Linked DNA regions of Homo sapiens: region 2 is linked to region 1. The links come from fine-mapping of genetic effects on gene expression. A gene starts in region 1. The other region holds a variant in brackets. All regions are shown on one strand. Distances are from middle to middle.

Evidence for each region. PIP is the estimated chance that this variant, and not a neighbour inherited with it, causes the effect. A credible set is the group of variants that fine-mapping cannot tell apart.
Region 2: its variant is the best candidate, but not a certain one, in a credible set for the expression of ECI2 in ovary (GTEx, PIP 0.80).

What each region holds. Positions count from the first base shown.
Region 1 is chr6:4,133,007-4,138,384 of GRCh38, reverse strand. It overlaps ECI2 (enoyl-CoA delta isomerase 2), which reads left to right and starts at 2,810. Exons shown (of 10, transcript NM_206836.3): 1 at 2,810-2,874; 2 at 4,674-4,836. The coding sequence starts at 2,825. ECI2-DT (ECI2 divergent transcript) reads right to left here and starts at 2,313. Exons shown (of 4, transcript NR_103764.1): 1 at 2,137-2,313; 2 at 983-1,024. RefSeq lists silencers at 2,255-2,464, 2,625-2,764.
Region 2 is chr6:4,097,639-4,103,016 of GRCh38, reverse strand. It overlaps the pseudogene TEX56P. Among named protein-coding and RNA genes, the nearest start is that of FAM217A, 21 kb to the right of the region's middle. The variant C/T (reference allele first, on the strand shown) is at 2,711.

The DNA of each region.
Region 1 (5,378 bases):
CCTGCTAAGAGAGTCTGAGATTCTCTCAACCCAAAGAACATCAACGGCCCTCCCAGGCAGCATCAGTCCCCTGCAATCAATAAGACAGGATCTAACCAGACTGGAGGACCCCCTCCCCAAGATTTTCATAAGCTCCAGGGGAAGCTGGTTATATAACAGGGTGAAGATTAGAGCTTTAGAGAGGTCTTGACTGAGTTTCTGCCTTTCCTACTCTTATCCAGAACCATTACACCCTGAAGATATATCTGGAGTCCAGGATTTCACTGAGAACTGGATAGCTGGGCATGCCAATTGTATCTTCAATGGCTCTCTGCTTGCTCTCAGCACGGAATCCAAACTCCTTAGCACAGATACAATGATCTTCAAGCTCAGGTGGAGAATCTACCAAAATCACAATGGTTCCCTTTTGCTGCAACTGGCCCTCCCACCCACAGGGCCATGGCAGCCATGTTTACAAGGCATGGTCTGGACACCTCTTAACAGTTTAGTAAACCAAATACGGACCCAAGATGACCCTCTTTAGGATCTAGGAATCTAAATGTCTGTCTCTTTAACCAGGAATGTCTGTCTCTTTAACCATCTCCTTTCTCTCAAATGCTGGATATAATGGGGCTTTAGTAAATGACAGCTGGTAGATATGCAAATGATTTCTCCAATAGGAAAAACATTCCTCCCGAGGTTATGGTTTTATTGCTCTATGGGATATTAACCAGTTTTGTTTCTAACTTTGCAATCTATTCCAGCATTCTTTTTTTAACATTGACTATATTAAACTAGTCTTTTAACTTCTTCTTTAGCACCCTGTTGGTTCCCTAATTAATGAGCTAAGTAAATCTTTGACACATGCTCTTTCTATATTTTTAAAATTATAGTTTGAAAAAGATAAGCTAATTTCCCACACCCCACTCTTTTCTGTGGTAGGTATAAGCCTGAGAGTAGTTTGCTTGCATTGCAAAAGGTTTCACTATCAAAATATGCTTACCAGTATGAGATTTAAAAAATATTTCCATGACAGCTGTTTCATCTTCTGGAAATGAATGAGTCTTGTATTATCTGCAATATCTGATTACTGCATTTCCATTACCTCTGAGGTTATCTAACAGCCTTGGAGAGAGTCAAGGTCTCTGAGAGAGGCAGCTCAGCCTACCAACTACCACTTTGTAATATATGGAGAGGCCAGGTGTGGTGGCTCACACCTGTAATCCCAACACTGGGAGGCCGAAGCGGGTGGATCACCTGAAATCAGGAGTTTGAGACCAGTCTGACCAACAAGGTGAAACCCCATCTCTACTAAATACAAAAAATTAGCCGGGCCTGGTGGCGCATGCTTGTAATCCCAGCTACTCGGGAGCCCGAGACAGGAGAATCACTTGAACCCAGGAGGTGGAGGTTGCAGTGAGCCGAGATTGTGCCAGTGCACTCCAGCCTACGCAACAAGACGGAAACTCCATCTCAAAAAAAAAAAAATCTCTTTGGGATAAGCCCAAATTGTTCTATTTGACTTTTGGTGTTGCCCCATCTACACTATTACCCAGATCTACCTGATGAAACTTAATGATAAAGTTACTTGAGACTTGGACTCTGCCCACCTGCAAGCCTCCTGTCTTTGGGGAATTCACCTGATTAATCTTTCTGGGTCTCAGTTTCCACATCAGCTCAACAGGGCAATATGCTCAACAGGGCAATTTCCACATCAGCTCAACAGGGCAATATCATTTTCCTTACAGGGTTGTCCAAAGACTTACAATTAGCCTGGCTCACTATAGGTAGTCCACAGGTGTCAGCTACATAAATCTAAAACTCCTAGGCATGCTTGGATGGGACAACTTGGGCACAGAATTTAGAGGGGTGGTTTTGTTTCGTTTTGTTCTGTTTTGTTTTTTGGTTCTCTGGGAACTGGACAAGGTGACACAGCCAAGGCCCTTCCAACTCTTAAGAATTCTTCCCCAAAGAAAATACTTTGCAAATGCCTCAGCAGAACTCAAAAATATCCACAAACTCTTCACTGACACTAAAAACTTGGGTACTCCAAAAATCACTTCTGACCCCCAGGCGTCCTACCAGGTCTGCAAACCTTCGATTTGGGGATGCATGACCTAGCAGCTTTTAAGCATACGCCCTCAATTGTTACCCCACCTCCCGGCTCAGGGCTGGCCCTCGGGATGCAGCGACCCCTCCTCGCCAGGCTCCGCGGGACTCCGGGCAGGGCGCTCAGTGCTCCGGCAGCCACAGGGTTCGCAGAGCTGAGGTCCGCCCGAGAGAGCAGCCGCGCCTCCAGCTCGCAGTTACTCGGAGCCAGGCCGGGGAGCATCTGTGCCCCGCCCCACGCGCCGCGCAAGTCCTCCCGGGATCACCCTCCCCGCGCCGCGAACCCCCCGCACTTCCTCCACTCCCGGGTGATACCCGGCCTCGCTCCGGCCCCGCCCCCGCATCTGAGCCCCGACTCCTAACCGCCTAGAGCTCCCGCCCCGCCCACGCACCGACCCCCCCGGCCCCACCCCCGAGCCCCCGCAGCCCCAGAGGAGGCCACGGGCTAGCGATGGCGAATGCGGCGTGGCTACGCTCTCAGCCTGGCCCCGCCCCAACCCTGGCCCCGCCCATGCCCCAGGCTCCTGCCTGGGCTCTGCTCTCGGCCCCGCCCCGCACCCAAGCCCCGGCCCCACCCCCGAGCCCCCGCAGCCCGGGAGCCTAGGCCCCGCCCCCGAGTCCCGGCTCCACCCCCGAGACCCGGCCCCACCCCCGAGCCCCCGCAGACCGAGCTAGGCCCCGCCCCCGAGACCCGGCCCCACCCCCGAGCCCCCGCAGCCCTAGAGCCGCCCAAGGGATGGCGATGGCGTACTTGGCTTGGAGACTGGCGCGGCGTTCGTGTCCGAGGTAAGCTTGGAGTCCCGGCCGTTCGGCCCATGGTCGCCCGCAGGATACCGCTGTCCAGGCGAAGGTCGCCGCCGTTGGAAGACCCTCCTTCCCTATTGTCTAGGTGGCAACAGGATTTTGCTTTGCTGGTTTTCCGGTGAGGTAGTGCTAAAAAGTGACGACCTCACGCGCGCCCTCCTGCACCGCTGGGCCCGGAGTGGTCAGGATGGGCGCGTCGGGAGGTCAGGGCTATGGTTCCCTGTCAGCAGTCCCCAAGGTCTCCGCCTGCCTCCGCGCACGCTCCCATCCTCCTGGGGCCGGACTCCGGGCGGGTGAGCCGCCCCAGCTGAGCACCCGGGCCTGCACTTCCCAGCCGGGCTGCTTCTGGGGTGCAAAGCGTCGCTTGCTAAAAGCGAGGTAAACGCAAGCCGTTATCACTCGTGTGGACTTAACACTCTGCTTCTTGGAGAACACGTATGCTATAAAGTGAAATGGCCGGGTACAGAGTAACGGCTAAGAAGCACGCTGCACCTCCCTGGGGTCCCGGGAACCCGCACGAATCTGTGCATAGGGAACAAAACCGAAACACGGTGGTGGCCTTGAAGTGGTAGAATTATGAGTGATTTTCCCGACTTTATGTATTTTCTTAAATGGTCGTGTTTTTGCTATTTGTTTTTAAAACTCACGCTTTATTTAAAAATAAATTTGTTCCACATTTTGTGGAAACTTGTACATTTCGGCTTTCTGTGGATATTTTAAATTTTTCTTTCGTTTTCTACGTGGAATTTGCCATATAAGATGCAGTTTTTCCCTTTACAGAAAATCATTTTAATGTAAAACTTACTCTAGGCTGATCTTACTGAATCAGTTACTAATAGTCCAAAGTTTGAACCTAGAGTTCATTGCACCATTTTCGAGTTACATAATTGTGTTTGTGTGTTAGGTTTGGGCTTTGTAACCTGTATTATTTTAATCATCTTTTTTGCCATTAACTCTATTATTCAGTGTCATCGTCGTGAACTCCATTTTTAGCTTGTGGCCTGAGTCCTGTGCATTCAAGTTTGCCACCCCACCCCCGCTCACTATGTGTGCTTAAAAACGTGCTGATCACCCCCGCGGTGGTTGCTGTTTCTGCTCTGTTCCTGGCTGGCTGGTTAAACATACCCATAGAAAGGGGCACGCCTGCTGAGCCCCCTTCACTGACTCCCTTCCACTGCAGGTAGATTCCCTCCCATCTGCTGAGAAGGCTGTGGCTCTATCTGGAATGCCAGCAACTGCTCGTGTGTTCTTTTGAATATTTCTTGTATGTTCACATCCATTCTCCCCTCCTTCCACCTGTGTGTATGTTGGAACACCAGCTTCGCCAGCAAAGAGGCAAGAATTGACCTGATATAGCTTATGGCTTATCAGTGAGTGCAGAGGCTGTTTCAGGACTTTGGGACACTTCACTAAATTCTGTGCACTTTAGCCTTTTGGTTTCCTGCTGTCCACTGTCTTGCATGCACTTCACTTCTTGCCTTTGGCAAAATTTACATGGTCATTCCTGTTCTGGCTGCTTTTATCTTTAGTTGCTTACAGATACCTCCCTGGATGGTTACTTTTCCTTTTATTTAAAGTTACTACTGTTAGCTTCTGTATTGACTTATTATCTTGGAATCCTTACAGCCAATTATTTGCAGCCAGTTTGCTGAGGCAAGTATAAAGAAAATATCTATAGACAAACATGGCATTTTGTTATGTATAGGCTGGGAACAATTAGAAATCAGGCTGCAGAAATGTGAGGGTTGGGAACAAATAGAAATCAGTCTGCCTAATTGTAGTTCTCTGCAGGTCACTAGTTTCCCGGTAGTTCAGCTGCACATGAATAGAACAGCAATGAGAGCCAGTCAGAAGGACTTTGAAAATTCAATGAATCAAGTGAAACTCTTGAAAAAGGATCCAGGAAACGAAGTGAAGCTAAAACTCTACGCGCTATATAAGCAGGTAAATGCCTACGGTCGAACGTTATTTAAAGAATTTTGGGCAAATGACTTCTTAAATAAATACACTGTGTGTTTACTAAAATGTGGCCTTAACATTTTGGTTTGTCTTGCTCCCTCTTCTCTGAAGAGTGTGTGTGTGTATATATATATATGCCAGTTTTTTATATTAGACCTTGAAATACTATTAAGGCACAAAGTGCCTCAGTGTCACACGAGTAAAAGAGACTTACGAGATATAATATTCACATTTGTAGACCTTACTTAGCTCTTGATTAGAATAAATCAACTGAAAAAGGTATTTTTAAGACAATTGGGGAAGTTTTGAGTAAGGACAGAGTGTTAGAAGATACCTAGAAATCATCGTTAATGGTGTCAAGGTTATATAAGAAAATGTTGATATTTTTAAGAAAAGTGTACTAAGGATATAGGGGTGAAATAGCATGGATAGTTGAAGTTCTCTAAGCACAAAAAGAAAAGGATAGATGAGGCCAGGCATGGTGGCTCACGCCTGTAATCCCAGCACTTTGGGAGGCTGAGGCGGGC
Region 2 (5,378 bases), 35 kb after region 1:
GTGCCTGCTGATCTGTTTACATAGCACAGCACTGAAGGAACTTTGTCAAAGCCAGCAGGCCTCACGTATGATCTGCCTGTTTTGTGGCCCTAAAACTGCTATTGCCATGTGAGAGAGGGGCCTTATCCTCTCCGTGCTAGCGGGGATACACAGCATAAACTGAGCAAATGTTTGCCAGGGCAGGTTCAAGGTTAGGACCTACAGTTGCCTCAATCTAACACGTGAAAATACTGTACAATGCATTCAAATAGTACTTCATACTTGTCAAAACTCAATTTCACAGTCGTTTTTCTATCAGTGTCACAACTCTTTCTGATACAACATGAGGTATTAGCAACACCATTTTACAGGTGGTCAAGGGCACACGAATCAGTAGTGTTCAATAGCTCTTAGACAAAAACAAAGCTATTCTTCGATTAAATTGACATAATAACTGCACATATTTATGGGATACAGTGGGATGTTTTGATGCATGTTTACAATGTGTCATGATCAAATAAAGGTAATGAGCATGTCATCACCTCAAACAATTTTCATTTCTTTGTGTTGGGAACATTCAAGATGCCCTCTTCTAGCTATTTGAAAATAAACAAAAAATTATTGTTGGCTATAACCACCCTACAGTGTTATAGAACACCAGAACTTATTCCTCCTGTCTAGCTGTACTTTTGTATCGGGTAACCAACCTCTGGCTATCCACCCCTTCCCGTTACCCTTCCCAACCTCTGGCAACCACTACTCAACTCTCTACTTCTGTGAGATCAGCGTTTTCAGCTTCCACATATGAACGAGAGCATGCAGTATTCTTCCCCACTTCCTCTCACTACCTCCACTACCCTTCCCAGCCTCTAGAAACCATTCTTCTACTCTCTACCTCCATGAATACAACTGTTTTAATTTTTAGCGCCCACAAATGAGTGAGAACCTTTTGAAGTTTGTCTTTCTGGGCCTTATTTCACTTAATATAATGTCCTCTAGGCTCATCCATGCAGCCTCATATGACAGGATTTCCTTCTTTTTTATGCTAAAAAGTATTCTCTTGTGTATATACACCACATTTTTAATTCATTCATCTGTTGATGGAAACCTAGGTTGATTGCATATCTTGGCTGTTGTGAATAGTGCTGCAATGCACATGGGAGGGCAGAGAGCTCTTTGACATACTGATTTACTTTCCTTTGGGTTCACACCTAGTAGTGGGATTGCTGGGTCATATGGTAGTTCTAGTTTTATGGACAAAGCTATTATTGATGATTCTTAATAATAGTCAGGCTTGCTTTGGCTAAAGAATGAATTCTCTCAAGGGTGTCAGTTAAGTCACAAAGAATTAAGAATGATACAGTTATCAAATGACAATATTTACCATGTTACCAGGTAATAGGAGAAGAATCATTAATGCCAGGAGGCATCATCAGAACTAGAACAGTTAATTCAGCAGATCCTTCAGGAATCTGGAGTCACAGCAACCAAGACAAGGTTCATGATTGATTGATTGCAAAATGGGCCTAATCCTCCCACCTGTCCTGTACCGAAGCCCCCTGCAACATGACTTTGCACCTCCTTCCACTGGGGCGAAGCCTGTTTCTCCACCTCTTGAATCCCTGCCCAACACTGTTTTCCTGCTTCCACTTTGATGCAACACCACTCCCAGGAAACCTTTTGCATTCTTATTTCTATCTCAGCGCTTGAGACTCCAACCTGTAACACTAGGAATACAAAAATAAATAAGATAGGCTGACAGTCCCTGCTTTTAAGGAAAGCAAATAAATGTTTGTAAAATAAAATGTTAAAAAAAAGTACCATTTCCTATGTTCTGATACTCTAGCTATATTTTCAGAAAGCAAACTAGGATATAAAGATCTATAACTTCATATGAAGACATCAGGACCTAAAATTGAGGTGTACAAACTTTCTATGGTTGTGAAACTTGAATGTTTAAAAATAGGTCTTGTGTTATTCTGTCTTCACATTGCTATAAAGAACTACATGAGACTGGGTAATTTACGAAGAAAAGAGGTTTAACTGAATCATAGATCCACGGGCTTAACAGGAAGCATGATTGGGAAGCCTCAGGAAACTTACAATCAGGGCAGAAAGCAAAGGGGAAGCCAGGCACATCTTATCGTGGTGGAGCAGGAGAGAGAGGGAGAGCGAGGGGAGAAGTGCAACACTTTAAAACCAACAGATCTCTTGAGAACTACTCACTATCATGAGAACAGCAAGGAGGAAATCTGTTCCCATGATCCAATCACCTCCCACCAGGCCCCTCCTCCAACATGTGGGGATTACGATTCAAAATGGGATTTGGGTGGGGACAGAGCCAAATCATATCAGGCTTCCAAAGCATGGTCAAATAATCTTCACTTGAGTAATCAGATATCATCACTTAATATAACCTTTACCTACTTCTGGACAAAAAATGTAGTGTCTTTGCTTTGTCCAGAAAACACCATGGTTCCATTGACCACCTTCTTTTATAATAATACCTTTGCCTTCTTTGGCTACCAATATTTAAATCAAATTGGCAAATTATGCCACTGAGGACACTGAAAAAAATGCAGACAAGGACTCTGTTTCACCAGGGCAATAATCCCAGGGGAAGCTTCCAGTTCAGGCAAATTCATGAGCTGGAACTCTCTCCCGGTTATGTTACCTTCAAATCAGAAATGATCCTGTCTTTGTAGCAACATCTACATTTATCCTGACAGCC[C/T]GGCAAAATTGCTTGAATACTTACTATGTACAAAGTGTAGGCATCATTGCCATACATGCAGCAATACGAAAGAAACAAATATAGACCAGGCACGGTGGCTCACGCCTGTAATCCCAGCACTTTGGGAGGCCAAGCAGTTGTATCACCTGAGGTCAGGAGTTTGAGATTAGCCTGGCCAACATGGCAAAACCCCGTTTCCACTAAAAATACCAAAAAAAATTAGCCAGGTGTTGTGGCACATGCCTGTAATCCCAGCTACTCGGGAGGCTGAGGCAGGAGAATCACTGGAACCCAGGAGTCGGAGGTTGCGGTGAGCTGAGATCGCGCCACGGCACTCCAGCCTGGGTGACAGTGCGAGACTCTGTCTCAAAAAAAAAGAAAAGAAAAGAAAAGAAAAGAAAAAAACAAATATAGAAACACCATCTATCTGGCATAAGCAGGGAAAGAAGTGCACCAAAAAAAGATAATTTGCCAAGGAACCAAAGCTTATGACTTTGAGCACCGGAATCCAACCAATTCCACATCCCCACTGTTACCACCTGGGCCACCATCCCTTACCTGCAGAGCTGTAAAATCTCCCAACAGCTCTCCTCCACCCATGCATTCTTTGGGAGGCTAGAGAGGATTTGGGTCAGATGATGTCACTCCTCTTGTTAAGACTGTCCAATGGTGCTCCAGTTCTCTCCATGTACAGTCTGGCAGACCAGGGATAAAGCCAAAGGTCCACCATGTCCTGCTATGGTATCCTAGCCCCTGGTCATGCCAATGGTGGGTGTGAAAAACCAAGCTGCTTCCCAACTTACGCAGCCAAAAAGCCCCAAAGCTCAGTGGTTGGGTTTCTCTCCAAGAATCCCACTCTGTTCTTGCTAGATTTCTGCTCTCTATTCTAGACTGCAATGGGCCATGGAGGACCCACACTCCTGCTCCCATTTCCATGAGTTTACTCCCAGTGAGGGCTCCTCTAGCAGCTTGGTGGTGGGTAAAAATGGGGCCCATGTGCTTTTATATAGAACAGTGCTTATCATTTTTTAGCTAAGGCATATAGAGATTTTGTGATCACCCTGTGTATCTCTAAATATATCCACATAAGGCAGAAATTAGAGTCTACCTGACAACTATGGTGGACATTGGAGGCTCTTTCGTGTTTCTCTTCAACAAGTGACATTTCTTCCACCCGTCAGTTACATTGTTGATGATTTTTCTTTTCCACGGGGGCATTCTGTTCGGCTTTGGGGTCAGATTAATCTCTTTTGGCAACTGATGTCTTGCTAAGATTCTTTCTAAGCCAGAGAGTTCAGGATTCTCACCTGGTAATAGAATAAGCATTAATACATTCAATGTTCCTCTCCATCTTTGCATAGCAAGAGTAACAAGGCACTGATTTGAGAAAACATATATATGCAGCTTAATAATTCCTATTGGGCCGGGTACGGTGGCTCACGCCTGTAATCCCAGCACTTTGGGAGGCTGAGGCGGGAGGATCACAAGGTCAGGATATCGAGACCATCCTGGCTAACATGGTGAAACCCCGTCTCTACTAAAAATACAAAAAATTAGCCAGGCATGGTGGCGGGCACCTGTAGTCCCAGCTACTCAGGAGGCTGAGGCAGGAGAATGGTGTGAACCCGAGAGGGAGAGCCTGCAGTGAGCCAAGATCGTGCCATCGCACTCCAACCTGGGTGACAGTGCGAGACTCCATCTCAAAATAATAATAATAATAATTCCTATTTAGCTTTGTCATTCCTTTATTCCAACAATATTACTGAGCACCATTCAGATCTTAGCCTGGTCCTAGACATCTAGCAGATACATTGTAAGTAAATAAAAGAATGAACAAGGCCGGGTGCGGTGGCTCACACCTCCCAAAATTTGGGAGGCCGAGGTGGGCGGATCATGAGGTCAGGAGATCAAGACCGTCCTGGCTAACACGGTGAAACCCCGTCTCTACTAAAAATACAATAAATTAGCCGGGCATGGTGGCGGGGGCCTGTAGTCCCAGCTACTCGGGAGGCTGAGGCAGGAGAATGGCGTGAACCCAGGAGGCGGAGCTTGCAGTGAGCCGAGATCGCGCCACTGCACTCCAGCCTGGGCGACAGTGAGACTCTGTCTCAAAAAAAAAAAAAAAAGAATGAGCAAACAAGCAGGCATGCTGGGACCACACAAATAGAGTTGGTTATGTGTGCATGATTCTCAAACTAATGGCAAGTTACCATACAATTATTATTATTGTGATTCTCATTTTCCCTTTAATTGCATACTTAATTGGAGATGCACATTTTGAAACTTCCCAGAAGAAATAGGGTGAATGTTAACATTATTGTCAGGCCGCACAACTTGGGGCCCCGTTTTATTGATGATTTTGTCTGAGCAAGGATTACAACATAGGACTGAACTTCCAGCATGCTTTGTCAGTTAGAATGTGGGAGTGTCACTTACTGTTCTTTTTGATTCCACAAAATTCATTTCTGGCCAGAAATGAACTGTTTTTTCTCGCTCTGTTATAAGCATGTCTATTTTCAGCTATGCCGGTGGGAAATGCCTTCCTTCTTTTGGGTGTTCCAATAACTGAGACTTGAGGTTTGGACTGTTGCGGCCTACTGTAGGAGCTCTGGATGGCCAGCGGTACAGCTACAATTGCATGGTAGAGCCACTTGGAGAAGATGAAGTC